Linked DNA regions of Homo sapiens. The protein of the gene in region 5 purifies or fractionates together with the protein of the main gene of each other region. This does not show direct contact. Each region holds a gene or a part of one and is shown on either strand. Other genes may lie near its edges.

The links.
Region 1: the proteins of STK11IP (region 5) and PHF10 purify together in Homo sapiens (affinity purification with mass spectrometry, with the first as the bait; one large-scale study listed by BioGRID). This does not show direct contact.
Region 2: the proteins of STK11IP (region 5) and ARID1B purify together in Homo sapiens (affinity purification with mass spectrometry, with the first as the bait; one large-scale study listed by BioGRID). This does not show direct contact.
Region 3: the proteins of STK11IP (region 5) and P4HA3 purify together in Homo sapiens (co-immunoprecipitation; one large-scale study listed by IntAct). This does not show direct contact.
Region 4: the proteins of STK11IP (region 5) and SS18 purify together in Homo sapiens (affinity purification with mass spectrometry, with the first as the bait; one large-scale study listed by BioGRID). This does not show direct contact.

What each region holds. Positions count from the first base shown.
Region 1 is NC_000006.12:169,712,868-169,719,490, forward strand, and holds part of PHF10 (PHD finger protein 10), read right to left. Parts: intron 6,052-6,623; coding exon 5,921-6,051; intron 5,040-5,920; coding exon 4,956-5,039; intron 3,222-4,955; coding exon 3,088-3,221; intron 2,991-3,087; coding exon 2,841-2,990; intron 1,976-2,840; coding exon 1,866-1,975; intron 1-1,865. UniProt on the Homo sapiens protein: Involved in transcription activity regulation by chromatin remodeling. Belongs to the neural progenitors-specific chromatin remodeling complex (npBAF complex) and is required for the proliferation of neural progenitors.
Region 2 is NC_000006.12:157,203,878-157,207,377, forward strand, and holds part of ARID1B (AT-rich interactive domain-containing protein 1B), read left to right. Parts: coding exon 1-119; intron 120-2,289; coding exon 2,290-3,500. UniProt on the Homo sapiens protein: Involved in transcriptional activation and repression of select genes by chromatin remodeling (alteration of DNA-nucleosome topology).
Region 3 is NC_000011.10:74,268,368-74,274,990, forward strand, and holds part of P4HA3 (prolyl 4-hydroxylase subunit alpha-3 isoform 1 precursor), read right to left. Parts: intron 5,241-6,623; coding exon 5,178-5,240; intron 1,354-5,177; coding exon 1,285-1,353; intron 1-1,284. UniProt on the Homo sapiens protein: Catalyzes the post-translational formation of 4-hydroxyproline in -Xaa-Pro-Gly- sequences in collagens and other proteins.
Region 4 is NC_000018.10:26,050,784-26,057,406, forward strand, and holds part of SS18 (protein SSXT), read right to left. Parts: intron 2,063-6,623; coding exon 1,841-2,062; intron 1-1,840. UniProt on the Homo sapiens protein: Appears to function synergistically with RBM14 as a transcriptional coactivator. Isoform 1 and isoform 2 function in nuclear receptor coactivation. Isoform 1 and isoform 2 function in general transcriptional coactivation.
Region 5 is NC_000002.12:219,610,019-219,616,641, forward strand, and holds the end of STK11IP (serine/threonine-protein kinase 11-interacting protein), read left to right. Parts: exon of another isoform or gene 1-108; intron 109-1,234; exon of another isoform or gene 1,235-1,343; intron 1,344-1,585; coding exon 1,586-1,816; intron 1,817-1,936; coding exon 1,937-2,040; intron 2,041-3,109; coding exon 3,110-3,207; intron 3,208-3,733; coding exon 3,734-3,912; intron 3,913-4,142; coding exon 4,143-4,224; intron 4,225-4,457; coding exon 4,458-4,528; coding exon of another isoform or gene 4,529-4,671; exon of another isoform or gene 4,672-4,853; intron 4,854-5,075; coding exon 5,076-5,323; intron 5,324-5,688; coding exon of another isoform or gene 5,689-5,772; exon of another isoform or gene 5,773-5,800; coding exon of another isoform or gene 5,801-5,809; exon of another isoform or gene 5,810-6,025; coding exon 6,026-6,175; 3' UTR 6,176-6,433; downstream 6,434-6,623. UniProt on the Homo sapiens protein: May regulate STK11/LKB1 function by controlling its subcellular localization.

The DNA.
Region 1 (6,623 bases), on a different chromosome or scaffold from region 5:
CCAGGTCTTTGCTACTTCTCTGTGCTGTCACTCCATTTGTAAAACAGACCTAATAATAGCATCTACCGCATACAGTTGATATATATGCATTAACTTATTTAATGCATACATATCACACCAGTGCATGGTACATGATATTACTTAAAATAATAACATAGAAAGCAAAATTTTTAGTAACCAATTATTGTAAACAAATTTGGGAAGCATGTATTCTAACAAATTTAATCATCTATTTTGTCTGAAACTATATTGGCAATCTCTTCCCCTAGGTCAGACAGCACTGCTTCGTGCCACCTCCATTCTCACCCTCAGTAGCCCCCATTCAGGAGGCAACCCTAGATGAAGACTTCTCCAACTAAGACAACACACCAAAAAGCAAAGGGGTTAATATACTTGCATATGACTTTTAATAATTTGCTGATGCCAAAATAAAATTTTTAAAAATTAAAGGCCGGGTGCAGTGGCTCACGCCTATAATCCCAGCATTTCGGGAGGCCAAGGTGGGCAGATCACCTGAGGTCAGGAGTTCGAGACCAGCCTGGCCAACATGGTGAAACCCCGTCTCTACTAAATATACAGAAAATTAGCTGGGCAAGGTGGCGGGCACCTGTAATCCCAGCTACTCGGGAAGCTGAAGCAGGAGAATCACTTGAACCAGGAGGCAGAGGTTGCAGTGAGCCGAGATCGCGCCACTGCACTCCAGCCTGGGCGACAGCGTGAGACTCCATCTCAAAAAAAAAAAAAAAAAATTTGAAGAAAAACTTTTAAAAAATTGCTGCTCATGATTTAAATTTGAATTTAAAAAATCTTTTTTTATTTAAAAAATTTCTGCCCAAGATTTGACTTTCAAATGGTGTGAGTTATGATACTATATTTTAAATTCTATTCTCTAAAAAATAGTATATTATGAAAAACATACGGTTCCAGAGTAAGGCTTAAGGTTGAAGTAAAAGCTGAGACTTTAAAACAAAATGGGCTGGGCACAGTGGCTCACACCTTTAATCCGAGTACTTTGGGAGGCCAAGGTGGGCGGATCACTAGGTCAAGAGATCAAGAGCATCCTGGCCAACATGGTAAAACCCACCTCTACCAAAAATACAAATAATTAGCTGGGCGTGGTGGCATGTGCCTGCAGTCCCGCTATTTGGGAGGCTGAGGCAGGAGAATCACTTGAACACAGGAGGCAGAGGTTGCAGTGAGCCGAAATCACACTACCACACTCCATCCTGGGTACAGAGCAAGACTGTCTCAAAAAAAAAAAAAAGAATCTGTTAGCCCTGTTTTTTTCAGTTACATTTAATTTGGGAATAGGAGATAAGTAACATTTAGGGTCCATATTGGAGCAGCAGCCAGGCCAGGTCAGCAATGTGGCTGGGGCACCCAGTTGCCCATGCCTGCCCCTCTCCGCTCCTTCTCTCATCTTCTCTGCAGTAAAAGTCAGTGTTTCTCAAACTCTAACCTGCACATGAATCACACAGACATCTGTTAAAATGCAGACTCTGAGTCATAGGTCTAGAGTTGGGCCTGAGATTCTGCATTTCCAACAAGCTTCTGAGCAATAACAGTGCTTTGGACCACGGAACATACCCTGAGCAGTGAGGTGCTACAGAACCCCCAGCATCTGTCTCTAACAAACCCAAACAGAATGGGCAGAGACAGAGGCATCTAGACTTCACCAGCATATATTCAAATTCTGACTACAGGGTATTGTTTACCACAGAACCAGAGAAGAATAGCAACACAAATCCTATACGATATCTTACGGTGATATCTATAGACCCCAAAATTGTTAGGAGGCAAGTACAAAAGGCTCTGAAACCCCTTACCAATAGCCGATACCAACTGTAACTAAAACTACTAAATACCTCTTATAATATTCCTGGAACTGTCCGGGGATGAGAGCCACTGGGTAAGAACTGACCTTTGTTCGCTCTGTTGGCAAAACTTTGTACTTCCCTTGAGGTACCTGGATAACCTACGTTAACATAAAGAGAAACACAAAACTGATTCCATGCTAAGAATCAAGGCTTTAGGAAGAGTCCCCACGTGCTCACCACTGCACGCCCACTTCCCCCTCGAAAAGCTAAAATTTTAGGAGATATCAGGAGCTATAACCTAAGAGGACAGTTGGTGCTTTCAGTTCTATATATTATTGTTTTAAAGGCCTATTCTCCTGAGGAATGGCAGTGGATCTCTTGCTCACTACTTAACAGCAGAGTGATCTGGGTAGCTTATACGACCTCTCTGTAGCTCAATTTCTTTATGAAATGGAAGTAATCCTAGTTCCAACCTCACATGGTTACTATGAGAATTAACATGCAAATCTCTTAAAAACTCTTGGGACGCACAGCAAGTATGATATGTAGCTATTATTAGTCTCATTTAGAATTATTAACCGTAAAGCAAAAGACATCTCACAAAAAAATGTAAATTGAGTATTATTAAGCACACCATTAAAAATAACATCTCAACTTCTGAGGAAAAAAAGAACACGCAGGTGTCAGCATGGCCAACATGGTAAAACACCATCTCTACTAAAAATACAAAAAATTAGCTGGGTGTGGTGGCAGGCGCCTGTAATCCCAGCTAATGGGGAGGCTGAGGCAGAAGCATCGCCTGAACCCGGGAGGCGGAGGTTGCAGTGAGCCGAGATCATGCCACTGCACTCCATCCTGGGCTACACAGACTCTGCCACAAAAAACAAAACAAAACAAACAAACAAACAAAAAAAACACACACACATAGGTGGTACAAAAAATAACGATAAAGGGGGTGATGGGCACTCTGCAATAACAAGTAATAAACTAAGTTCAGGGGGTACTAAATTTAAGTTATCCTACATGTGTCTGCAAGTCAAAATAAGCTCTTCTTTCTTCCATGCGTTCCCGGTTTAAGTTGCTATTAAATTCTGCTGCTTTTTTGGCAGCTTTCTTAATATACTCAGGCACTTTACTGGCTTCAACTTTCTGAGTATTCTGTTGTTGCATTTGCTGGAAAAAAAAAATACAGTTGGAAGTCACATATAACTTTCTAAAATGTCATTTTCCCCAACCCAAATAAAAAATGCCAGTCACCTCAATTACTTACGGAATACTCTTTATAATGGTCTGTAATTCGTTGACGTTCTTTTTCTTGTAGAATAACAGAATACTCAGCATGTTTGGCTGGATATTCTTTTATCATTAAATCAATCACTTCATCACTGCGCAATGCTGTTAAGCCTATTTTAGACCAAAAAATAAAAAAATAAAGAAGCTCTTTTAAGGATAAGTGAACAAAAGCACTCTTCAAAATTTAATTCTTCAAACCGCTCCACGTTGTAATGGTTTTCCAATAGCCAAAGCAAAATATCTTAGTACATTTGAAAATAATTAAACTTAATATTCACAATATAAACTCGAGCAATCAAAAGATTATCTTGCAAAAGGCAAATATATCAATTTTTCAACCAAACAAGTTTATTTTTAAGATTCTATGTGCTTTGAACATATATCCCTTTAGTTGGAAACAACTGTTAAATAATGAAATGCACTAACTACTAACAAGTACTACAGAATACTAGATGAATAAAAAAAAATTCAACATATTATAGTTCCCAGTCTTCAAATTCCATACACAAGAAATATTACAATCAATTAAAATTTCACCAAAAACATCAGCACACACACACACACCATGGAGACAATTTTCAAAACTCACAGTATCAGATTTCACCAATTGCTAAAATGCATTCCCAAGAATTTATATAAAAAGTAGCCATGTTGCATTAAAATGTTTGTGAAAAAAAGATTACAAATAAAGCACGGACATAATTATACAGAACTAAAAATTGAAGAAAATTTGCCTTTTTGCATTTTAGAGATGTGGTCTCGCCATCTTGCCCAGGCTGGAGTGCAGTGGCTATTCACAGACATGATCACAGCACACTACAACCCCAAAGTCCTGTGTTCCAGTGATCCTCCTCCCTCAGCCTCCCAAGTAGCTGGGACCACACGCACACACCATGCACTTAGCAAAGAACCTGCAACTTAAAAAAATATATTGTACAAGCTTTGTACAAAAAATACAAACACTCTGAAAACTCTGTAAAAATTATTAGACAAGGGCTGGGCATGGTGGCTCATGCCTGTAATCCCAGCACTTTGGGAGACCAAGGTGGGTGGATCACAAGGTCAGAAGTTGGAGACCAGCCTGGCCAACATGGTAAAACCCCGTCTCTAATAAAAATACAAAAATTAGATGGCTGTGATGACATGCGCCTGTAGTACCAGCTACTCGGTAGGCTGAGGGAGAATTCCTTGAACCCGGGAGATGGAGGTTGCAGTGAGCTAAGATCGCGCCACTGCATGCCAGCCTGGACAACAGAGAGAGACTCTGTGTTAAAAAAAAGAGAAAAATTAGACAATTATACTCTGTTATAGAATAGAGGTTGATCCTTGACTTGCAATGGGGTTACATATGATAAACCCATCCTAAGTTGAAACTATCCTAAAAAGTAAAAGCATTTAATACATCTAGCCTACCAAACATCTTTGCTTACCCTAGCCTAACTTAAACATGCTCAGAAAACTTACATTAGCCTACAGCTGGGCAAAATCAGCTAACACAAATTTTAATATAAAGTGTTGAATATGTCATGTGACTTGTTACATATTATACTGCAAGTGAAAAGAATAATGGTTGTATAGACACTTGAAGTATGGTTTCTACTGAATATGCATTGCTTTCACACCATCATGAAGCTGAACCATCATAAGTCAGGAACCACATGTGTGTTCAAGCTTCATTCTCCTGTGTATTTTAACAATAATCAAAAATGAAGTAAATAATGTAGCATTTAAATAGTTCAATTTATTTTATTAATTTTGTAAAATATTTTAGGAAATAAGATACTTATCTAGTATTATCTCATAAATGTTCAGCTTGAAAAATTCACATTAAAAAGCTATTCTTACCTAGAGTGCACTGAGTTTCAGTAATGACATTTAGCTCTCTCAGGTAGAGTTTCTCCTTGTGAGACAAATCTCGTCGCTCTAAATCTCCAAAAAAAAGATCAAAAGACTATTAAAAACAGCAAAACCTTATGCACTTGTAAAACTTTTAAAAGCTTAAAAACCTTGACTTTTTAAAGTATTCATATTACATATTCCAAATATTATTAAAGGGGCTACAAAAAAATTTATAAATTCAAGAAATAAAACTCAGCAAGATACAAAAGTTAGAATAAAATAGGAAATAGAATAATCCAAAGCAAGAAGGTCATATAAATAACTATACTAAACTAGTTCATGAGGAATAGCCTTTCTCAAATTCAGATACGGCTCATATAGCTAACTCTATTCCTTAGATCAAGAAACAATGGTAAAAATCCCAAACTTGACTATAAAATGATTTTTTCTAAAATTTTCCTCAGGAAATTCACCTTTCCCATTTTGCTTTTAAATCAGTTTATGAGCCATAGAAAATATCAATAATGAAGAGTGATGCTGAATGATAGCAGTAAATGAAACACAGCCAGGCGTGGTGGCTCACACCTGTAATCCTAGCAATTCAGGAGGCTGAGGCAGCAGGATAGCTTGAAGCCATGAGTTTGAGACCACGCTGGGCAACATAGCAAGACTTCACATCTCTAAAAAAATAAAAATTAAAAAAATCTGCCACGCGTCGTGGTGCACACCTGTAGTCCCAGATACTTAGAAGGCTGAGGCAGGGAGACAGCTAGCCCAGGAGTGCAAGGCTGCAGTGAGCTATAATCGCACCAGTGCGCTCTAGCCTGGGTTACAGAATGAGACCCTTAGTCTTAAAAAAAAACAGCAAGCACAAGAATATAAAATATAATCTACAGAAAAATTCAGAAGTTGACAGTGTATCATAAAGAATTACTATCAATTATAAATTAATCTATTATATAAACTAGTACCTGGATATTTCCTTTTAAAGGAGGTCACACCCAAATATTCACTGACTTGTTCTTGAAGCATATAGTATTCTCCTGTTTCATCAGGTGGCCATTTGTACTCTATCAAGTTTTCTGCTGGATAGTAACTAAAACTAAGTACAGAAATACATATTATGCATTAAATGTAGCTTTCATTAATTTTTAATCACTTTTATTGAGGATATTTTGAAAACTATTTTAAGTATTTAAATTATTTGCCTCCTATGACTTGACTTCCTGTGTATCAAAGAAAATTACAAAACAGGTACAAGGAATAGAAATAATTATCTGGTCTACCAAGTCAAAAAGGTATGTGAAAATAACATCTTTTATACACTGGGAAGAACGTAGAATCACAATTGCTAAGAACGAAGGCATTTTTAGTTTAAAGGACCTATGAGGGCAAAGCAAGGTGATGATGGTATCAGCTCTGACTTCTTTCTCTTGGGCTTAAAATGCATAGCCAGTATTTCATCCACCCAAAGAATAATCAACTTCTGTCTCTTGTCTACTGTTCAGTGAGTCATAAATAGCTGAGAAAACAGAACTCTTAAAAACCTATTATCTCAGTGCATCATATCATAAACCGTAACTGTTTGTTCTCAGATACTCCACAAACCCAGAAGCAAAGAATGGACCTAGTTTGAAGGTGCCAGGGTATCACAGTCGATCTCCATCCTGAGTA
Region 2 (3,500 bases), on a different chromosome or scaffold from region 5:
CGTGGCGTGTGATGATGTCCCTTAAATCAGGTCTTTTGGCTGAGAGTACGTGGGCTTTGGACACTATTAATATTCTTCTGTATGATGACAGCACTGTTGCTACTTTCAATCTCTCCCAGGTAAGCCAGCATAGTCCAACTAACAACCAAATTAGGATAGGAGAGCATCAGGCCATGCACATTTGTGCTTGAACTAATGCCTGAGTTGATGAGCACTGACCGTCCAACACTGTTAATCACTGCAGTTGTTATCAACCAGCCTTAATCAATGTAGAGTTATCTGGGATAATATTCACTGTAGTCTTTAGTGTGTGTACACACACATACCTCTATTTCTTATGAGAGAACAGTGACTGTGTGTGTATGTGTATATGGGATAGATGACAGTAGTAACATTAAATTGTTCAGAATGAATATTAGCTGGCCAATGGGAAGAAATCAAAATGTAACATTAAGTTGTGACTGGAGTCAGCATTGGAAACACAGTTGGTTGCAATGGGACATAACCCTGCTTTCCAGGAGGACTTGACATCTTCTTTTCATTAAAAAGATATTCAAGATTTAGAAATTTTATATTCTATACATTTATAGAATGTATAAATATATATAGAAGGAGAGAGAGCAGTTTAATGAACCCCCATGTACCTGTCAGTCAGCTAAAATAGTTATGAACTCATGGCTAAACTTACTTCTTAGTCTATGCTCTCTCATTTCTGCCTCTCTCCAGGTTATTTTGAAGCAGTCATGTAAAAGCCTACTACTTTTAATGAGCTTAAACCCCTCCTTTGTTCAGAGGTAGGCTTCAGGTAGCTTCCAGCATAATAGCTAGAAGAGAGGAGCACTGAAGTTTGGGGAAAATGCCCGAGTCCACTGGGCTATAGACTTTTAAAGAAATATTTAGAAATAAAAAATGGAAAAAGGTCATTTTCCCTATAGTATACAAACAACTCTCTACTTTGAGTGCAAAAACTAAAACACTTAATTTCCTTGCTTCTAAGGAAATAAGACCAGAATCTTCTACTTCTTTCTTCTCTCATTTAAGCCCTCATTATCAGCCTAGAAAGGCAATTTTTCAATTGCTAGAAAGTTTATTAATAAGGTCATAAACATTGTACGAGTTCTGTGTTAACAGAAAATAAGTATTTAAAAACTGTATACTGCATTTGCTAGAGTAATGCGCTTTCATCCTTATGTTAGGTGAACTGTTGTTGATCACATATTTGCATAACCAGAATTGCTTTATTAACTTTCCCTTTTCCCCTGGAAAAAAAAGGGAAAATGCCCTTGGAACATTGTGCCTTCAGCACACTAAAAGCAGTTCTTTCTAGTTGGTGCTGGGGGCTTCCCCTGACTTCTTAAAAATTGTTCCAACTCTACTTTCAAGAAACTGACAGTAGGATATGAAGGTATAGCTGATTTCCAGAACATCTACCGGGAAAGAATCCTTGTTAGAATCCTTGTTACTTACTCTTTAGAGTTCCTAAACATGGTGGGGGGTGTTGGGAGAGAGGGCAGTTGCTAATCGTGAAGTGTATTGGTTTTTTCTTGGTACAGTTGCTTAAAGGAAACCAAACTTGTTCTTGTAGTCAGTGGTTCTCTCATAGTGGTTTTTGCCTTTCAGCTAGAGTCATAAATAACTGAAATGTAAAATTGCATTTTATGAAACATTTTAATTTATTTATCATAGGCTAAATTGATTTGTTTTTAATTTTCAGTGTTCATGAGCTACCACATTGCTGAAATTATCTTCTCCAAAAGATATATAGAGAACATAAATTAGGGTGACCTATGGTACCTGAGACAAAAATAACCATAAAATCCTAAGAATAACAACCATAAAAATCCCGGCAAGCAAGTCTCAGATAAATAATAGAAGAGAACAGAGTCACTTTGGGCAAAAGAGTCTATAAAATCCATGTTCCCACTCTTCTAATAATGAGTACATTGTCTCTAAATCAGGAACAGAAAGGTAAAGAACAGCAAGGCACTCCCTCAGTGATAAGATTAGAGATATGAGAATAAAAAGTAAGTTTTCGTGTAGATAGTCTAAGCAAGGAAGCAGCAAATAAGGAACATGCTAAACATCGGTTTAGTTTATACTGTAAAATTCAGGAAGTTCGCTGGACCTGAAGGGTAGTTTATCTTTCATGGTCCAGCCAAAAAGGGAGACAAACGTGTGACAATGATGGAAAGGTATTGACGGGTCTCAGGATCTTTACCCTCCTCGGTCATATCTGATGTCATGACATTGTACCTGTTCTTTCTTTCTTCTCCTCCTCCTCCTCTCCAGTTGTCTGGATTTCTCGAACTTTTAGTCGAGTACTTTAGAAAATGCCTGATTGACATTTTTGGAATTCTTATGGAATATGAAGTGGGAGACCCCAGCCAAAAAGCACTTGATCACAACGCAGCAAGGAAGGATGACAGCCAGTCCTTGGCAGACGATTCTGGGAAAGAGGAGGAAGATGCTGAATGTATTGATGACGACGAGGAAGACGAGGAGGATGAGGAGGAAGACAGCGAGAAGACAGAAAGCGATGAAAAGAGCAGCATCGCTCTGACTGCCCCGGACGCCGCTGCAGACCCAAAGGAGAAGCCCAAGCAAGCCAGTAAGTTCGACAAGCTGCCAATAAAGATAGTCAAAAAGAACAACCTGTTTGTTGTTGACCGATCTGACAAGTTGGGGCGTGTGCAGGAGTTCAATAGTGGCCTTCTGCACTGGCAGCTCGGCGGGGGTGACACCACCGAGCACATTCAGACTCACTTTGAGAGCAAGATGGAAATTCCTCCTCGCAGGCGCCCACCTCCCCCCTTAAGCTCCGCAGGTAGAAAGAAAGAGCAAGAAGGCAAAGGCGACTCTGAAGAGCAGCAAGAGAAAAGCATCATAGCAACCATCGATGACGTCCTCTCTGCTCGGCCAGGGGCATTGCCTGAAGACGCAAACCCTGGGCCCCAGACCGAAAGCAGTAAGTTTCCCTTTGGTATCCAGCAAGCCAAAAGTCACCGGAACATCAAGCTGCTGGAGGACGAGCCCAGGAGCCGAGACGAGACTCCTCTGTGTACCATCGCGCACTGGCAGGACTCGCTGGCTAAGCGATGCATCTGTGTGTCCAATATTGTCCGTAGCTTGTCATTCGTGCCTGGCAATGATGCCGAAATGTCCAAACATCCAGGCCTGGTGCTGATCCTGGGGAAGCTGATTCTTCTTCACCACGAGCATCCAGAGAGAAAGCGAGCACCGCAGACCTATGAGAAAGAGGAGGATGAGGACAAGGGGGTGGCCTGCAGCAAAGATGAGTGGTGGTGGGACTGCCTCGAGGTCTTGAGGGATAACACGTTGGTCACGTTGGCCAACATTTCCGGGCAGCTAGACTTGTCTGCTTACACGGAAAGCATCTGCTTGCCAATTTTGGATGGCTTGCTGCACTGGATGGTGTGCCCGTCTGCAGAGGCACAAGATCCCTTTCCAACTGTGGGACCCAACTCGGTCCTGTCGCCTCA
Region 3 (6,623 bases), on a different chromosome or scaffold from region 5:
TGCATAAAATGGCACAAAATGGCATAAGTTGCCATTTACTCCTTCATGCATGGGTCACTGACAGAGTCCCCTGCACCCCAGGTCCTGGGGCTGCAGGGACAAATTACGTCCAGTTCTGCTCTCCAGGAGCTCACAAGAAACAGACATAAAACAGACCTGAACAAGACAGCATGGTGAGTTCTGGGAGAAAGGTGAGCACATTTGTCATTGGGTCACTGAGGAGAAACACCGAACAAAACCACAAGGTGGAACAAAATATTCCCATACAGCCAAGCATGTCATTAACTCAGAAGCTTTTCCTCCCTCAGGCACTTATGATTAACACTTTCAGGGAGCAGGCAGTATCATAATCCCCAGTTTCCTAGCAAAGAACTTGAGGCCCAGGGCTTTAAATAATGCAATAAAAGAAGGAGCAAAGTGAGGACTCAAGCCCAGGTGTTCTGACGCTAAATCCTGTATGTTTTTCCCCCATACACGGCTTCTTTGCCGTATCTACTTCCTGTAGTCAAATTACTTTAACCTTGGTCCTCAAAGTAGACAAAACTCCAGGTCATGAAGAGCTTTCCAGGATGCATTGGCAGTCTCTATGTTCCTAAGCCTACAAGAGGCGTCAAGCTCCTGAGTATTCAGAGATACCTGGCATTGATTATCGAATGCTCAGGATGTGCCAGGCACTGTACTACCTGCTTTACAGGAATGATCTCGTTTAGTTATCTTCATTTCATTCCTAAATTAGGTAAGGGCTGCCAGGGAGTTGGACTGATCTGAAATTTGGAGGAAATACTCATTCATGAAGCAAACCTCTTAGACTCAGTTCTCCTCAGCGCCTATCCTTTCCAAATCCCTATTGCAACATCATAATGCCTGCTGACGTCTCTGTAAACTCCTGGATCAAAGGGCTATGAATTTCCCTCTGCACCCTCCGTGCCTCTAGCTCTCAATGTGGACTGAACTAATGATGGAAGGAACTAGATGCTGTAGAGGATCCAAAGTAAATAAAACAGAGCTCTTATCTTGAGGAGCTGTACTGTGACAGGGAAGACAGACATGTAATCATCTACTTGCAATATAAGTGTAAATAAAATAACAAATAGAGGCACAAGTGACGAGCATGTGTGCGGTAGTAAAGAAGACTATGGGATGATCTGTGATTCTGGGAATTGGGGAAGACCTCTTTTTGGCCCTCCTCCCAGGAATGGGCTTGCAAGCACAGACAGCGTGAAGGTTAGAGGGTAAGCGCTGCACTCCCTCAACCCCGTCTTCTGGGACCAGGGCCCCACTCACCCTAACCACAGGCACGCTGAGGTTGGCATAGATGAAGGCTGTGGCTCCTCCAGCTTCCACCGAGCTCAGCTACAAGACCAGAGGAAGAAGCCAGAGTTAAAACTGCCACCGACTTCCCTACCCTGTCATATGATGTCACATCTGCATAGATTCCTTCTCATGGTCTTTTCTTCAACTCTGAGAGAAATACTTGAAAGACAATCATCCAACTCAGGAGGAACTTCGGGAGCCTACTCAATGGCATTGGTGTTTGCCTACAGGGCCACAAGAGGACAATGTTTTGGTATTCTTCCTTTCTTTCCCTTCCAGCTAACATCCTTATTGAGGGCTACAATAAGTAGATTCAAACTTTTTGACTGAGACCCTTAGGAAAAAATACATTTTAAATAATGACCCAAGACACACACACATACACACACACACAGACACATACACACACACACCTCCTGAAATATAATTGTCATAAAACATTCTTAATATCTGAGATAGCTTCTGATCTTCTCTACTTTATTTTATTCTATTCTAGTGTGGTTCTCTTAAATGCTCATCAGAACCACTAAATTAATCTCACAACCTATAATGGATCATGACTTGTGGCTTGAAAACCAGTTTAGACTATGATTCTTCTTGAAAGCTGGGCATCATAGGAACTACTTATTACACCTTTGGCATATTCTCCAGATCACTCTGCTCCTCTCCAGGGAACCCAAGCTAAGGAGTTTCATCACTGGTCTGTTCTAGGACTATGGATATGTTTTCTTAATGTGAAGCTTTTTTTCTGGTTGTCACAGAAATATATAATAATTGTAAACTGTTTTAAAACAGGAAAATATTTTTAAATAACAATAATTATCATTGTACCATCCAGAAAAAAGTTATAGTTTACATAGTGATAGTTGACATTTATTGGGCACTGACTATATGCTAAAAGTTACACTATGTCCTTGCAAATATATTATCTCATTTATTCCTCAGAACAATCCTAGGAGTTACAATCGTTATTATTTTTAACTCTTCACATTTTACAGATAAAGAAACCAAGTCTCAGAGAGCTTAAGCACTTTATAAAAGGTCACATGGCTCTTCCATGATGGAGTCAGGATTTGAGCTGAGCTGGTGCCATGTGACTACAAAGTCCCTGCTCATAACCATCATGCTACACATTTGGAAATTTAGGTCATATCCAAATGTTTACTATTATAAACAACACTGCACTGAACAACTTAATGAAAAAAAATCATTTTGCATTTTGGATTGTTTTCATAGGAAAGAGTCTTGGCACTAGTATTATGGGGTCAAAAGGACATGCATAAGTTTCATACTTCTTATACATTTTGCTAAATTATTTTTTCAGCAGTTGCATCACACAAGAGTGCCAGTTTTACCTCACGCTGCCTAGCATTATCTACCAGAAGGTTCATGCTCTGTAATCTTATGGCAGTCAGATCCCGGTACATTTACTTGTGTTACAGAGCAAGAGGTATAGGAGGTAGGACGCTGGCCCTTGGTAGATGCAAGTGAACTGACATGGTGATTTGGAACCTGGAAATGGCAGTGGTGACTATTAGCATTCCTTGGCTCTCCCTGTAGCACACTGGGAAAGCCGATGAGAACAACAATTGGCTCCTTGTGTTCAGGTAACAAATTAGATTATTCTATTCTAGCCCTTGTCAGTAAGGGGCAACCTGGACTTTCCTGCATTCTTTTACCTGTGGTTTTACAATATGGTGGAAAGGAATGACATAGCCAACACATTAAAAAGAAAATCGGATTCTGCATGCAATGAAGCTCATGAGCACGGCATGGGCTGTAAGAACAGTGGGAAAGGGAGAGAAATCTTCCGTCTGTATACCTTCTACTATTTTGTACTGGGGCTGATCTTTTTTTTTTAATAGAGACAGGGTCTCACTATGTTACCCAGGCTGGACTCGAACTGCTGGGCTCAAGCGATCTTCTTGCTTGAGCCTGCCAAGTAGCGGGGACTACAGGTGCACACCACCGCACCCAGATTGGGACTGATCTTATGTCCAATCTGAGCAGAAAATCACCAACTGGACTTCAACTCAATCCTCTGTACTTCTTAAAGATTATTTTCTCCCTATAAAATCAGTCTTAGGTTTCCCACAAACCTTAACATTTGTCTTGAGAAATGTTTGTCTTGAAATTGTCTCGAGAAATCCCAACCTGAAGATGAAAGACTTGGGCATAATCTAGCACTTCCCTGGTCCCATGATACTGATTCCCCTTTATGATACCCTTTCCTTTAATTGCTCTGTGGGATACAATGACAGAAACATACAGTATGGAACTTTCCAGAGTGACATCCCTCCTTACATTATCTCATCAGACCCTCACAACAACACTGTGAGGAAGCACAGGGCAAAAAGTGAGCTCACATAATAGATGTAATCTGTGCTGAGGCCACATAGTAAGTGGCAAAATCAGGATTAGGTCAACTGACTCCAAATCCAAAGTGTATTCCATTCCACTCTGTCTCAAATACTTAAAACCCAAATGCACATGCATGCACACACATGTGAAAGTGCATGAGAGTGCATGCACACACATACACACACACACACACACACACATGCATTTGCCATTTAAAATTACTGGGCTCTTATACCCACGCTACCTTCGCTATAGTAACTGGGGCCCTGTAACCAGGGAACCAGCCATAGGAGATATTGAGGGGATAAAGAACAGAGATATATTGTGCCCTAGATGCCCTGTTTTTTGGCAGCAGTTCATTCTTTCGCCGTTTGTGACCTCCCATAACAGCTGGAGTGGTCAACCAGAGATGCAACCAACTGCAGCTCCAAGATGTGTCCCCTGCCTGATAGCTGACCTCAGAATGATCAGAATGAGGCCAGACACCATTGTAAGTGGAAGCCTTCCAGTTCCATAGGAAGTACAGAACTGAGCCACATAGAGAAACACACTGGAATTGCTGGCATTAAAGACTACACAGAATGCTGGCCTCTGACTGCCCTTTCTTGGCTGTCCTGTGGAGACCAGAGACAGTCCTAATAGAAGAGGAAAAGCTGGGGTGAGGGATGTCTGCTATTCTAATGAGGCTGAAACAAGGACTTCATCTTTGGTTGTTATATAGAACCCTTATATATGTTTGTCCCTTCAGTTAACAGTAAGGTATCTCTTCTAATAAGTGATTAATTCTAATATTCTCTTCCAGTGACAGGTGATTGGAAGCTTGTCCATAGAGACGAAAGTAAACCCACATGATCTGAAGGGAAGGGGACAGGTGAGATGATACAGACTGGGGCCGAATCCTGATCAGGCCAGGAATTAGGAGAGAAGTACAATTTATTGGTTTATCTTGAAAGGGGAGTCATGGAGATTTTACTGAAGATTTTATAGAGAGATAAGGAAGAGAATTTTCACTAAACATCAGAGGCAGCACTTGCTGAATTTCTCTCAGTGTCTCTGTTCTTCCCTCTTGTAAATCTGCTGCCTCATTCCTCATCCATCTCCCTCCCCACAGCCCCACAACCTCATCTATGGGTTGTTTTTCAACACTGATTAGTCCATGAGACCTCAAGGACACAGATTCTCAGATCCTCCTCCTGTGTTGTTCAAGTCCCTCTATCTCTTGGCCTTCAGTGGAGCTCCACTTCCCATCCTAATCCACTGCCCATACCAAGGTCATATTTAGATTTACACACTGTCAGCCTCTTTCAGGGTAGAAACCTTGTCTTGTATTTCTTTACATCTCCTACAGTGCCTATCAAAAATGCTGTCTGAAATTCGCAAAATTCCTGGAGATTTTTGCGCTGAGTACCAGATAAAATCAATACGTGAAATTGCTTTGAAAACAATAAAATAAAGTAGAGCTATAGTCAGTCATGAAGTAAGAAGCCCAGAGCAATACTCACATAGATCATAAATGTTGCAACTCGGTTTCCTGACTTCATTCTGTAGAGGGGGCTGCTTGGTGACTGAGAAAAAAAAAAACAGAACATATTATTTTATGCAGATGGCACCAGAGGGACAGGCAGGATTCCACTATTAATACAAATAGAAGTAAAATGGGGGCATCAAAGATGGGATATAGTTCTGATATACACCTACTGGAGTATGTGCCCGTCTTTGCTGGCAGGTACTCAATACAATTTTTTTTTTTACTAATTTATTAGATACTTATATAAAAGAATTGTCTACTACCAAACAGAACTACTTGTCAGTAGTGAAAGTACTATATGAGGGGTTAATTGCACCTTTGAGTTCTCTGTGAAATATAGAAATTAATATATAAAATATTACAGACAATTATTCTGTAGAAATACCAAATCATAAGGCCAGAGTTCCAATTACTTGCTGAAGAGACATACTCTTTTTTTTTTGTCATGGAACAGTTTGAGATATGATTTATATTCCATAAAATTCACCCCTTGTAAGCCTACTGTTCAATGAGTTTTCCCACAATTGAAGTTTAGAACACAGAACACTTCCATCTGCTGAAAAGCTCCTTCATGCCAGTTAGGAGTCAATCCCTGCTCTCACCTCCAACCTCAGGCAACCCACTTATCTGCTTTCTCTCTATAGCATTCCATTGTGCAGATATATCAAAATTTGTTTATCCGTTCACCTGTTGACAGACATCTGGGCTGTTTCCAATTCTTGGTTTTTTTTTTGTTTTTTTTTTTTTGTTTTTGAGATGGAGTCTCACTCTGTTGCCCAGGCTGGAGTGCAGTGGCGTGATCTCAGCTCACTGCAACCTCTGCCTCCCAGGTTCATGCCATTCTCCTGCCTCAGCCTCCCAAGTAGCTGGGACTACAGGCGCCTGCCACCATGCCCAGCTAATTTTTTTTTTTTTTGTATTTTTAGTAGAGACGGGGTTTCACTGTGTTAGCCAGGATGGTCTCGATCTTCTGACCTCGTGATCCGCCTGCCTTGGCCTCCCAAAGTGCTGGGATTACAGGCATGAGCCACCGTGCCCAGCCCCAATTCTTGGTTATTACAAATAAAGCTACTATAAACTTTTCTGTACAAATGTTTGTAGAGACATATTTTCTTTTTCTTTTGGGTAATATACATAGGTGTGAAATGGCTGGATCATAAGTAGGTGAATCTTAAACTTTTTAAGAAACCATCAAACTTTTTTCCAAAGTGTCTGTATAATTTTGCATTCCCACTAGCAGTGTATGAGAGCTTCAGTTCCTCCACATCCTCACCACCACTTGGTATAATCTTATTTTATTGTAGCCATCATAAGAGAGTGCAGTGCTATCTCATTGTGGTTTTAATTTGCATTTCCCTAATGATGTTGAGCATCTTTCCATATGTTTCTTAGCCATTCATTTATCCTTTTTGGAGAGGTG
Region 4 (6,623 bases), on a different chromosome or scaffold from region 5:
CTGTACTCCCAGCTACTTGGGAGGCTGAGGCAGGAGAATGGTGTGAACCCGGGAGGCGGAGCTTGCAGAGAGCAGAGATTGTGCCACTGCACTCCAGCCTGGGCAACAGAGCCAGACGCCGTCTCAAAATAAATAAATAAATAAATAAACAAATAAAAATTTCCTCAATGATTTTAACCATATTTTCTTTTTGAAAATTGTCTTTAATCTCTTCAGATCTCTACCTGGTCATTTCTGTACAGCCTATTTTCTATTAAGAAGTTCATAAACTGACCAGGTGCAGTGGCTCATGCCTGTAATCCCAGGACTTTGGGAGGCCAAGGCAGGTGATCACTTAAGCCCAGGTGTTCAAGACCAGCCTGGGCAACATACCAAGACATTGTTTCTATTCTTTTAACAAAATACAAAAAATAAAAATAAAAAAGAAGAAATTTATAACTATGAGAACAAGGCAAAAAGTGATATAACTACTGTACTATAGTAAAAGGAAGACCTACACATACTTACAAAATACGACATTTTTAAAAATAAAAGTTGGTCCCTAAGAACAAAAAATTTCTAAAAACACCTCAATACTTTTCTCCAAAAAGTCAATATGCACATTGCTATATGCATTATTTTTTTCTTCGAATCTTATTATGTCATATCAAACCATGCTGCAGCAACATCCATTTTTTGTGCACACCATACCTTTTCTTAACTATAGGTTTCTAAGAAGTTAAGAAGTGTGCCATCATTAATGGAGTTGCTGTCAGAATCATCAATTTTCCTGTTCTCTCTCCTGGTAACCAAACTGTATAGAGAAACACATGAACTCCCTTCTGATCTAGCACTGACTGGATCTTGCTGTTGTTTGGACTTTTAATTGACCTAATAAAAACAAAAAAATAATTCTACCATAAGCATTAAGTAACTTTGGGGGAAAAAAATGTAGCAAGTGCCAGTTTTGTGAAGCTACAATGATTGGCAATTTTTTCTATTATCTCCTTTTGCTTTCAGTATATCTCATGAAAATTATTAAAAATCTGTATTATTTTAAAATTATATTATTTCATCATAAGGAATTATCAACAGATTAACACTAACTTCTTTTATCTGGGTACATTTTAGTGCTCTGTTTATTTTATAAATCAAAATCTAGAAAATTTTATTCCAAATACATTTAATTCTATCTTACAGTCTTAACTTCATTACATTTTGTAACTGAAATAGCATTAACCTGGAAATAAGCCAAATGTTTTAACAGTCAATTAGCAGAACAGAGCGCCACTTACTGGCTTTTAGTTATTATTCACAGAATACTTAAAAGAGAAACATGGTACAATTTCATTCTGAGATTGGTAATAAACTTTAATGGACTTACACCACTCTAAGACAAGTACAGCAGCACCTCCACTGAACATTCTAATGGCAAATTATTTTAGAATTACCTTTTAATGCTGAAACACAGCATCAGAAAACATCCATATAAATCAAGGGGAATTCATATAAATTAATACATCCTTAATAAGTAAAATGAAGGAGCAGGTGTTTATTTTCTCAACTTTCTAGCTAAACCAAATGTTTGGTTCTTCATTGACTGGCTTTAAAAAACAATTCTCAACAATACAGAACCTCAAACAAACTGTCCAAAAGACATAAAAATAAATAAGCTTAAAAAGCTACATTGAGCAAAGAGATTTAAACTAGCTTCAAACTCAACATCTCCTTTTTATGGGCATGACTGTCACTCACTTTAAACTTTTATTTTTATGAACCAGCTAAGAACCTGACAACAATCATTTTACTTTTCAAAGGCTAATAGAGCACTCTAGTCAAGAAGGACATAAAGCTTAGTTACCTTGGTTTGGCTGCATACTCATATTTGGTCTGGGACCATAGTTTCCCATTGGTTGTCCCTGACTCATTGTCATCTGATTCTGTACTGGCATGCTCTGTGATGATGGCACAGAATGGTTGTAACCTCCCATGGATCCATGGCTACTTGAAGGCATATTCATGGAACTGTTTGTCATATTGAGTTGATTGGGTCCAGGTCCCTGCATAGGCATATGGTTAGGCCCTTTGAAGAAAAATGATCAGAAGCAAAATATGAAAGTTAAACAGATGGTCCATACAAAAGTACCTGGAAATAATTTTTTTTTTGCATTATTATAGTAATACCAAACAATAATTAATCGATAGCAAAGTAAATGGTTTATAGGAAAAGACAGCAAATACTGTGAAGTAGTTATTCCCATTTTTGGATTAAGAAATTGATGCTTTTGAAGTCAGGAGCACTCTGAAAAAGAAGGAAGGACTAGCTTCTTCATAAAAGAGCAAAACATATCATAAGGTTGGAGTAATTAACTATGAACATAAATGAATAGACTAACAGATCGATTGAACAGAACAGAGTCTAAAAGTAGACCCAAATACATAGCTGAGTAAATAATCACAGTAATATTAAGTATTAGTGAGCAATAGAAAACTAATTCAGTAAATGGTATTGTGACAACTGGGGAGCCATCTGGAAAAAACAAGTTGGATCACTATCTCATTTGTTCCACTAACTAATTCTAGATGAATAGAAAACTTAAACATTTAAAAAGAAGAAACCATAAAAGAATTTCAAAAAGGAGAATTTTAAAAATAATAATGGAAGGACCTTCTTAAGTATGCCAGAAAACCCTGAGCCATAAAACATTGATAAATTAGACTATACAAAATTTAAAAATTTGCACGACATAAAAAACTCAAAATTAAATAATAAAAAGGTAAATAAGAAAATATTATTTATAAGATAGATCGCAGACCCAGACCAAATTAATTACTTAACATATGAAGTAAGTAAAAGACCACCACCAGTAAAAGAATGGGCAAAGGACATAATGAGGGAATGACTAGTTCACACAAAAACTACAAAAAGGTTCATCAACATTAAAAGATTGATTGCTTCACTTAAAATAGGAAGGCAAATTAAAACTATGAGACCGAACTTTCACCTCTCAGATTCTCAAAAATCAAAAGTTCGATCTAACTATATTGTGAAGAAAGAAGCACTTTCATCCATTGTTGAAGGAACAGAAATCTTACTTATATTTCATGGGGAATCAAGCTTGTGGAATCAAGGGTGGGATCAAGCTTGAGGAAATTTGTGATGACAAACAACAATTCAAATAAAGTAGTTGTCCCTCAGTATCTGTGGGAGATTGGTTCCAGAACCACCCACAGATTTCAAAATCCGTAAATGCTCATGTCCCTGACATAAAATGACACAGTATTTCCACATAACCTATGTACATCCTCTCATATACTTTAAATCATCTCTACATTACATGTACTGCCTAACACAATGTAAATGCTATGTACATAGTCACTATACTGTGTTGTTTAGGGAATAATGACAAGAAAAAAAAAGTATGTACATGTTCAATACAGTCACAATTTGTTTTTCCAAGTATTTTCAATCCACTGTTGGTTAAATCCATGGATGTGAAATTCATAAATGCAGAACTGATGGATATTACTATTTTTACACAAAGCAATTTGGCACTAACTGTCAAATTTTAAAATATATATACCTTTAACCCAGCAATTTCAGTTCCAGGAATTTATGCTAGAGATATACAAATTTTTGTGTGCATGCGTATTGACACACAGAACACATATATATGTGTATATATATTTTTACAGCAAATTCATGACAGTATAATTCATAATAACAAAAGACTAGAAGCCTATGTTTCCATCCTAAATGTTCGAATAAATTAAACTTGTAAAAAAGAACATGATAGAGACCAAAAAGAATAAGGCATCTATTTACATATGGAATAAAATAATGGTCTCCAAGATATATCTTTGAGAAAGAAAAGATACATAATAGTATTTAATGAGTGCTATCATTTGTACTTTAAAAAAAAAGAGTAAAAATAAAGGAAATACACATGCATTATTTTATATAGAGAAAATCTCTCTCTCTTTTTTTTTTTTTTGAGACGGAGTCTCATTCTTGTTGCCCAGGCTAGAGTGCAATGGTGCAATCTTGGTTTACTGCAACCTCCACTTCCCGGGTTCAAGCGATTCTCCTGTCTCAGCTTCCCAAGTAGCTGGGATTACAAGTGTGTGCCACCACGCCAGCTAATTTTGTATTTTTAGTAGAGATGAGGTTTAACCTCACTGGTCAGGCTGGTCTTGAACTCCTGACCTCAACTGATCCACCCACCTCAGCCTCCCAAAGTGCTGGGATTACAGGCTTGAGCCACCATGCCCAGCGAGAGAATATCTCTTGAAGGACAACTAGAAACCAATGCCTCTCTAGAACTGTCTGGAGAGGTGGCGGCTAGGCATCCTTTGGTATCCTTTGATTTTGGTCCCATAGGCATGTATTACCTAGCTTTTAAAAAATCAATTAATTTTTTAGGCTGGACTCGGTGGCTCATGCCTGCAATCCCAGCACTTTGGGAGGCTGAAGCGGGTGGATCACCTGATGTCAGGAATTTGAGACCAGCCTGGCCAACATGGTGAAACCCCATCTCTATTAAAAATACGAAAATTAGCCAGGTGTGGTGGTGTGCGCCTGTAATCCCAGCTACTCGGGAGGATGAGGCAGGAGAATCGCTTGAACCCGGGAGGCAGAGGTTGCAGTGAGCCGAGATTGTGCCACTGCACCCCAACCTAGGCGACAAGAGCAAAACTCTGTCTCAAAAAGAAAAAAATAGTAATTTTTAAAAAAGGGAACCTGAGACTGAGTAGTGATTTGACCCAGATCAATGAGAACATAAGTAGCTCTAAAACTGAGTCTACATAATGAAATATACATTAAAAACCAAACTGAAATAGGAAACAGCCAAGATGCAAATTTGTGTGCATAAACAGGTTGGCTAAATGCTATAAGGAACAAATAAAGAAAATATAAGTTACTGGCCTTCCAATTTCTCCTACACTTAACTGTAACTCCGTAACTATTGTTAGGAGAAATTCTTTCTGTTTTTTTTTTTTTTGTTTTTTTTTTTTGATGGAGTCTCACTCTGTCGCCAGGCTGGGGTGCAGTGGCGTGATTTCGGCTCACTGCAACCTCCGCCTCCTGGGTTCAAGTGATTCTCCTGCCTCAGCCTCCTGAGTAGCTGGGATTACAGACGTGCAATACCACGTCCAGCTAATTTTTTGTATTTTTAGTAGAGACGGGATTTCATCATGTTGGCCAGGATGGTCTCAATCTCTTGACCTCGTGATCCACCCGCCTTGGCCTCCCAAAGTGCTGGGATTACAGGCGTGAGCCACCGCGCCTGGCCTGGAGAAATTCTTAACTATTGTTTCGGAAGCTCTATAGTATTCTGAACAACCCAGGTCATAAGTGGTTGATAATAACTAGCTTATAAAAGAATATACTTCAGAAGGCCTTACACAAAACCAAAATGTCATGTTAACCATAACTGTACTGCTGCTCAAATGCTTCTTTGGCCTTAGGCTTCAATGTTACACAGAGAATTTAAGTCAAAATCCTAATTCAAAGTACCATCATAAAAAGTCACAAAACTCCTAACTAGCTAACCTGCACTATCACTACCTTTCCAGTTCTAAAAACAGTGTGTCCTGGTGAACTAAATGTGGACTTGGCAAGAAGCTTTCTCTTGACTACAATATGACTACAAACTGAAAAGCAGTGATGTCTTTATTCCTACCTCCATACTGGATGTGTGCCATATATGTTGCAAGCCTTAGCAGGAAATAGGAGACAGCCACTGAAACACCACTGCCCTCCTATATGATCAGTCACACCTCAATCTTCTATAAGCCAGGCTACCTTACCTCTTTTGCTCTGTGCTCTCTTGTTTCCTTACTGCACCCATCATCCTTGGACACCAATGCTATCAATCAACACAATCGGCTACAGAAAACAGTATCCTAAAGATGCCAATTACTAATTTTAATAATTGTTCTGTTATTTTATTTCCATTACTGCTAGTTGTATAATGTCTTCTTTATCAATGAAAATAACTTTTGTCTTAGAAGGTAAAAATATTCTGATACCTAATGTAGATAATATTCTACCAAAAATTACGGCCATGGGTTGATGCTACTGTTACAAAAACAAAATAGTGTAAAGATACTTGTATGATTAAAATTTCAAACCAGCCAAAGGTAACTAAATCAGCATCCAATGTCTTAAAACATATCAACCTAGTGACCCTACACTTAAAATTGACAAATAGAAAAGAGAATGGCTCAGTGTATAAATAATGTAAGGAAGTTTACATTATTTTTCAGCCTTTAATTTTTGCTTTAAAATCAATTCCAATATTTATGTTATGCTATAAACCTATGTATTAAAAAAATTTAGATTCAGCTTCAATATCAATAAGGAAATACTAAATACACCAGCACTTCAGAGACTGTTTTCTTTCCCCATGTGTTTTTCCCAGTGATACTGTTTCTGAGATCAATCAATATTTAAGTAAATAAAAACTCAGGGAAATGTTATAATATCTTTTTTAAACAGACTTTAATTCTTAAGCCATGGTGCAACGCCTTTTTTTCCAAAAAGCTTCTAAAGCCAACTGTATTGCAGTTTCAGACAGACTAAATTTAGCCAGTTCTGTTCATCAGAGGAATGGTGTGTGTCAGCTACATCAAAGCCCAAG
Region 5 (6,623 bases):
GCATTTCTTCATGCGCTAGTCCTTAAAACAAGAATTGTTTCCATTGTAGACCAGTCAGCACTATCTTTGAAGAAGACATTGAAGAAGAAATAAATATTCTTGATAACAGCTCTGTGGAAATGCCAGAATTTTATTAGACGGTTTTCTCTTCTTGGCGGCAGCTGGAGCAGGGGTTTAGATTTTATTCAGAAAATGGAGCCCTGCTCCATTCCCCACTGTGAACTGGCCTGGGCATGCAGCCTTAGTGACACAGCGCAAACAGAAACAGCCCCCAGCCCCTCCCGGACCCTGGCTGTACACCATGAGGTGCTGTGGTCTCTGGAGCCTCTTCCATGGTGGCGTTATTAATGAACATTACTGTGGGCTCTGTTCTCCTTTAATTTTTTTTTTTCTTTTTTTTTTGAGACGGAGTCTCGCTCTGTTGCCCAGGCTGGAGTGCAGTGGCACAACCTTGGCTCACTGCAAGCTCTGCCTTCCGGGTTCACGCCATTCTCCTGCCTCAGCCTCGCAAGTAGCTGGGACTACAGGCGCCCACCACCACACCCAGCTAATTTTTTGTATTTTTAGTAGAGATGGGGTTTCACCGTGTTAGCCAGGATGGTCTGTCTCCTGACCTCGGATCTGCCCACCTTGGCCTCCCAAAGTGCTGGGATTACAGGCGTGAGCCACCACGCCCGGCCAACCATTCTCCTTTCACTTGCACCTCAGTTACCTCCTCTGAACAAAGAAGGGAATGAACTCACCCCATGGTGCTGTTACGCTATTTAAATGTGACAGTAAGGCACCAAGCAGAGGGCCTGGCACAACACAAAGGTCTCCTGTAAATGGTAGCTGCTGCCGTTGTCCCCAGCTGTATGGTCCTGGGCAGCATGTGTAAATGATTTAATATTTTCTTTCTTCTTTGCAAAATGGGATAGGGAGAGTTTCTCTGGTGATGAAATGCGATCATAGTGGCATAGGAGGTAGCGCATGCCCATCACGGTGTAGCTGCTCAGAGTGCTGCCTCTCTCATTGCTGATCCATGTCCTGATTCCTTCCCAGCTTCCTGACACTAAGGATGAGTATAAGATAGATGCTATTGTCATCCCTGTTTTATAGACGAGGAACCAGGCTCACAGAGCTTAGATGACTTGCCCATGATTACAGAGCCATTAATTGATGGAGCCTGGAATTGGACCGAAATTTGGCAACAGAGTTCTCTGCCTTTCCAGACCTGTTGATTTTGGTCTTTCAGACGTTGCTAGGAGAGCCCTGAAGTACTTGATCAGCCCAAGTCTGTAAGAGGGCATAAGAGCAGGTCCTGGTTGTGTTTGGCCCAGTCTGAGAGGGCCTAGAGTTAGAAGGTAGAGTGCACTTTGAGGAGTTTGTGGGCCAGGGTTAGCTCATCCCTCCCTGGGGTGGGGAGTGATCAGTTGGCAGCTGTGCCGGGAGAGGGAGCTGGTGGCCTGGGGCGCGGTGGTTGTGTATGAAGCTGGAGGCTTGGGCTCAGGGGAGACCTGAGCATGGGGAAGGAGCATCGTGAGCATGGTGGGAGTTGTGGCACTGTGGGGGGGGCTCATGGGGACCGTGTCCATCCTCCCTCCAGAATCTCCTGCTGTGTGTCCTAACTGTGGTAGTGACCACGTGGTTCTCCTCGCTGTGTCTCGGGGAACCCCCAACAGGGAGCGGAAACAGGGAGAGCAGTCTCTGGCTCCTTCTCCGTCTGCCAGCCCTGTCTGCCACCCTCCTGGCCATGGTGACCACCTTGACAGGGCCAAGAACAGCCCACCTCAGGCACCGAGCACCCGTGACCATGGTAGTTGGAGCCTCAGTCCCCGTGAGTATAGGCAAAACAAGACATAGATGAGTTTGGGGAAGGGAAGGGGCACTGATGGGGAGGTGGAGATGGAGCCCAGGGGCTGCCATGGGCAGGCTGATGCCCCCTCATTGCCCTCAGCCCCTGAGCGCTGTGGCCTCCGCTCTGTGGACCACCGACTCCGGCTCTTCCTGGATGTTGAGGTGTTCAGCGATGCCCAGGAGGAGTTCCAGTGCTGCCTCAAGGTCTGTGCTCCCTGACACTGCCCATGCCCCCAGCTGTCCAGGGTGCCCACTCGTTTCCATCACAGCCAACTGAGTCAGATCAAGCACTCTAGAGACCTGATCTGGCTTCTGGTTTCAACCCCAGCAGCTTCTTGCTGTGTGGCCGTGGACACATTCCCTGGTATTTGAGTCCCAGTTGTTGCCTGTCTGCAATGGAGATAACGATGCCTCCCTTACACAGTGGCGTGCGTCAGGGCTCATGTTGAAGCTGCCCAGCCCAGCACCTGGCACTCATCAATGGGGCCTCCTAGCATTATTATAAACACATGATGTCGTTAGGCCTTTGTTGAGCACCTGTTGTGCTAGACATTGAGGATCTACAGATCAATCTTGCCCTTGATCTTACAGTCTGGTGTGAGAAGCTGACAATGATTATGCAATATGCAAATGCTGTAATCGGGCTAAGGCCCTTGAAGGGGTGTCTAGTCCAGCTTGAGTGGGTCAAGGAACCTTCCTGGGAGGTGATGTCTAAGCTCAGTCTTGAAGGGTAAGTTAAGGAGTAGGGAGGAAAAGAATGTCTTAGGTAAAGGAAGCCGCAAATGCATGGAGGCCCGAGAGTGTCGCTGGTGGGGAGAACTGCCCAGGATGAGGGCACCTGGACATGCAGGGCGAGGGGCAGGGGTCCTGAGAGGACTCTGGGGGGCCGGCAGGGGCCAGGTCAGGAGCTGCCTCCTGTGTCTGCCAAGGAGTTTGGACTTGTTTCTGAGGGCCACTGGGAGCCACTGAAGGATTTGAAATGGGGCAGTGATGGTCAGTTTTGTGCCTTAGAATAGTTAGTCTGGCGGAGCGTGGAGGGGGTGAGGCGACAGGCAGGGAAGCCAGCTGCTGAGGCTCTGAGCGGGCAGGGGCTGCAAGGCAGAGAGCGGTGGTGGATGAAGAGGCTGTCGAGTGTGAGGGAAGCTCCATAGACTGGTGGGTGGGCAGTGGGAGGGTCAGGCCGAGGGTGCTGTCACCAGGAACTCGGCTTTCAGTCTGGCCCCACCTCCCCAGGCCTCTCATCAGGTTTCTCACCAACTTCCTCTTCCCCCAGGTGCCAGTGGCATTGGCAGGCCACACTGGGGAGTTCATGTGCCTTGTGGTTGTGTCTGACCGCAGGCTGTACCTGTTGAAGGTGACTGGGGAGATGCGGTGAGTGAGAGGGGAGATGCAGTGAGTAAGGGGGGAGATGGGGTGAGTTGGGGGGAGATGGGGGAGTGAGGGGGAAGATGGGGTGAGGGGGGAGATGGGGTGAGTGAGGGGGGAGATGGGGTGTTAAGGGGGGAGATGGGGTGAGTGAGGGGGGAGATGGGGTGAGAGAAGGGGGAGATTGGGTGAGTGAGGGGGAGGTGGGGTGAGTGAGGGGGGAGGTGGGGTGAGTGGGGGGGAGGTGGGGTGAGTGGGGGGGACGTGGGGTGAGTGAAGGGGGAGATGGGGTGAGTGGGGGGCGGAGATGGGGTGAGTGGGGGGCGGAGATGGGGTGAGTGAGGGGGGAGATGGGGTGAGTGAGGGGGAGATGGGGTGAGTGAGGGAGGAGATGGAATGAGGGGGAAGATGGGGTGTGGTGAGCGCACGGGGGTGATGCAGTGAGTGAGGCAGGTGCAGCTGGGGCAGGGCCTCTCTGGGACTCTCACTCCACTCTCATGCTTCTCCATTGCTCTGTCCCCTCTCTCCACAGTGAGCCTCCAGCTAGCTGGCTGCAGCTGACCCTGGCTGTTCCCCTGCAGGATCTGAGTGGCATAGAGCTGGGCCTGGCAGGCCAGAGCCTGCGGCTAGAGTGGGCAGCTGGGGCGGGCCGCTGTGTGCTGCTGCCCCGAGATGCCAGGCATTGCCGGGCCTTCCTAGAGGAGCTCCTTGGTGAGAGAGGGGAGGGGAAGGCAGGAGGGTGGGCAGGAGGGTGGGCAGGGCCTTGGGGCCAGGCTCCCCACCTGGTACCCAGTAGCGGAGACAGAGAGGTAACAGGACTTGTCCCTTGTAGAAGTTTCTGAAATCCAGAAATGTGGAGAATAGGAAGGGATTGAGAGGTGGTGAGTTTAGGCTGGAGGAGAGCAGAGCCTTCTAAAGTTCCCTGGCCTGCCTCTGTCTAGATGTCTTGCAGTCTCTGCCCCCTGCCTGGAGGAACTGTGTCAGTGCCACAGAGGAGGAGGTCACCCCCCAGCACCGGCTCTGGTGAGTCGATAGGAGGCAGAGGCTGGGGTTGCTGCCCAATCCTCTTTCCACAGAGCCCCAGACATGGCCCTGTGCTGAGTAGGTCCTGGGCAGCCACCTGTCCTCATGCCATGCCCCTTATGGGCCCCTAGTGTCTCCTCCCAACCCCCTGCAGGGCTTTCTTCCCACTCCCCTCTCTTCAAGTCCTTCCCACCCGCTAGCTGATCTTCCTGTGCCTGCCATATTCCCTCTAGGCCATTGCTGGAAAAAGACTCATCCTTGGAGGCTCGCCAGTTCTTCTACCTTCGGGCGTTCCTGGTTGAAGGTGAAGCCTCTGTGCAGCTGATGCTTCCCTGGTCTCTGTACCCTACCTTGTCACAGGCACTGGCCCACGCGCAGCACCTGTACAGTGCCCTTGCAGCAACTGTCAGTTCCTGGAACCTGGAGAACCTCTCACTTGAGGGCATAGCTGAGTAACAGCCTCAGTGTGCCCTGACCCTCTGGGTGGGGTTAGGAGGCACCCAGGATCCTCAGTTACCCAGAGCCTTTGCTCTCGGGCCCAGGCTTTCTATGAAGTGGAGCAGCGTGGCTGAGTCGGCCCTGCCTCATCAGTCACAGAAGGAGAGGGTGGAGCCTTGTTTCTGAGTAGGGTGGGTGTGGGGCAGTGGGGGGCGGTAGGCCTCAGAGGTATTCCAGAGTAGAGATTCATGGAGCTTGGGAAAGGGAGGGTCTTGGCCCCAGGGGCACAGGCTGCTTTGTGACCCACCTCAGAGTGTGGTTCACACCTCTTCTCCCCAGCAGCACTGGGACGCTGGCCCCAGGGATCTGGGCCCCTCCATGACCTTCCACACTGGATGCCTCTTTCCCTGCAGGCCCTTCCACCTGCCTCGTATCCCTGTTGCTGACTCCGTCCACCCTGTTCCTGTTAGATGAGGATGCTGCAGGGTCCCCGGCAGAGCCCTCTCCTCCAGCAGCATCTGGCGAAGCCTCTGAGAAGGTGCCTCCCTCGGGGCCGGGCCCTGCTGTGCGTGTCAGGGAGCAGCAGCCACTCAGCAGCCTGAGCTCCGTGCTGCTCTACCGCTCAGCCCCTGAGGACTTGCGGCTGCTCTTCTACGATGAGGTGTGTATGTGTATCTCCAGTGAGAGGGAGGGAGGGGAGATGGTGAGCACAGGTTGGGGCCATGAGGGCAGGGTGGGAAATGGGTCTAGGAACCCTGGGCATTGGTGGCAGGATGGCACTTACAGATGAGAGAACTAGGGTTGGAGGAACTGGGGGACTCTAGGCTTGGATGAATATCAAGTCAGGGAGGCAGCTGTAGGCAGGGGAGACACCTGGACTGGGAGCCCAGCCATTTAGCTGGGCCACGAGGCTTTCAGTGAGGTTTCCGGCAGCTTTGAGTTGGCAGGATTGGGCCGGTTGTATGCCAGCCGTTTGGCCTTTGTGACCACCACCTGAGGAGATACGGTTACTGGTCCTATTTACAGGTGAGGAAGCTGAGGCTTGGGGATGTTAACCAGTTTGCCCAGTCCAAAGTGGTGGAGCCGGGAATTGAATCCACAGTTCCCTGAAATTGAGCCCGCATCTTCTGTACAACAGGGAAGATGAAAAAGACAGGTCCTCTGGAGGCTTTCAGTAAACGTCGGCTGGATTCTGTTTACAAAGCTCAGAGTCAGGATCTTTTATGGGGAGTGACATGGGCCTGGGGAAGGGGAGAGGCACTGAGCCAAGGTGGAGACAGTGAGGCCTTCGCAGAGACCTCCCTTGTACCCACCCTGGTGTGGTCCCCATGAGCCTCGCCTTGCTAACTGCTCGGTCTGCCAGGTGTCCCGGCTGGAGAGCTTTTGGGCACTCCGTGTGGTGTGTCAGGAGCAGCTGACAGCCCTGCTTGCCTGGATCCGGGAACCATGGGAGGAGCTGTTTTCCATCGGACTCCGGACAGTGATCCAAGAGGCGCTGGCCCTTGACCGATGAGGGTCCCACGCTGACCTTGGCCCTGACCTCAGGAGCCACGCTGTAGACATTCCCTCTCCTGGTCTCTGGGTCTGGCTTCCAGGCTCTGGCTGTGGATGTCTTCAGCCTCTGGGTGCTGGCCAGTGAGGTCCCAAATGACCCAGGGCTTAAGGGAGAGGCGAGAGAATGATCTGGCCTCAGGGGACAGGCCACCTGGTCAGGAGGAATATTTTTCCTGCACTTTTTCTCAGGTATCAATAAAGTTGTTTCCAACTCATAGGTCATGTGTGGTACTTAGAGTCACTCATAAGGCCTGCAGTTCCCCTAACCTCTTCTGACAGAAGCTATCCCACCCATCACCTTTCCTGAATGGGCAGCTCCAAGCAGCCTTGTTTGTGCCATGAGACCCCATCTCCAACCCAACTGTGGTCCCAGCATGGGAGATCAAGTAGAGCTCCTGACCCACAGG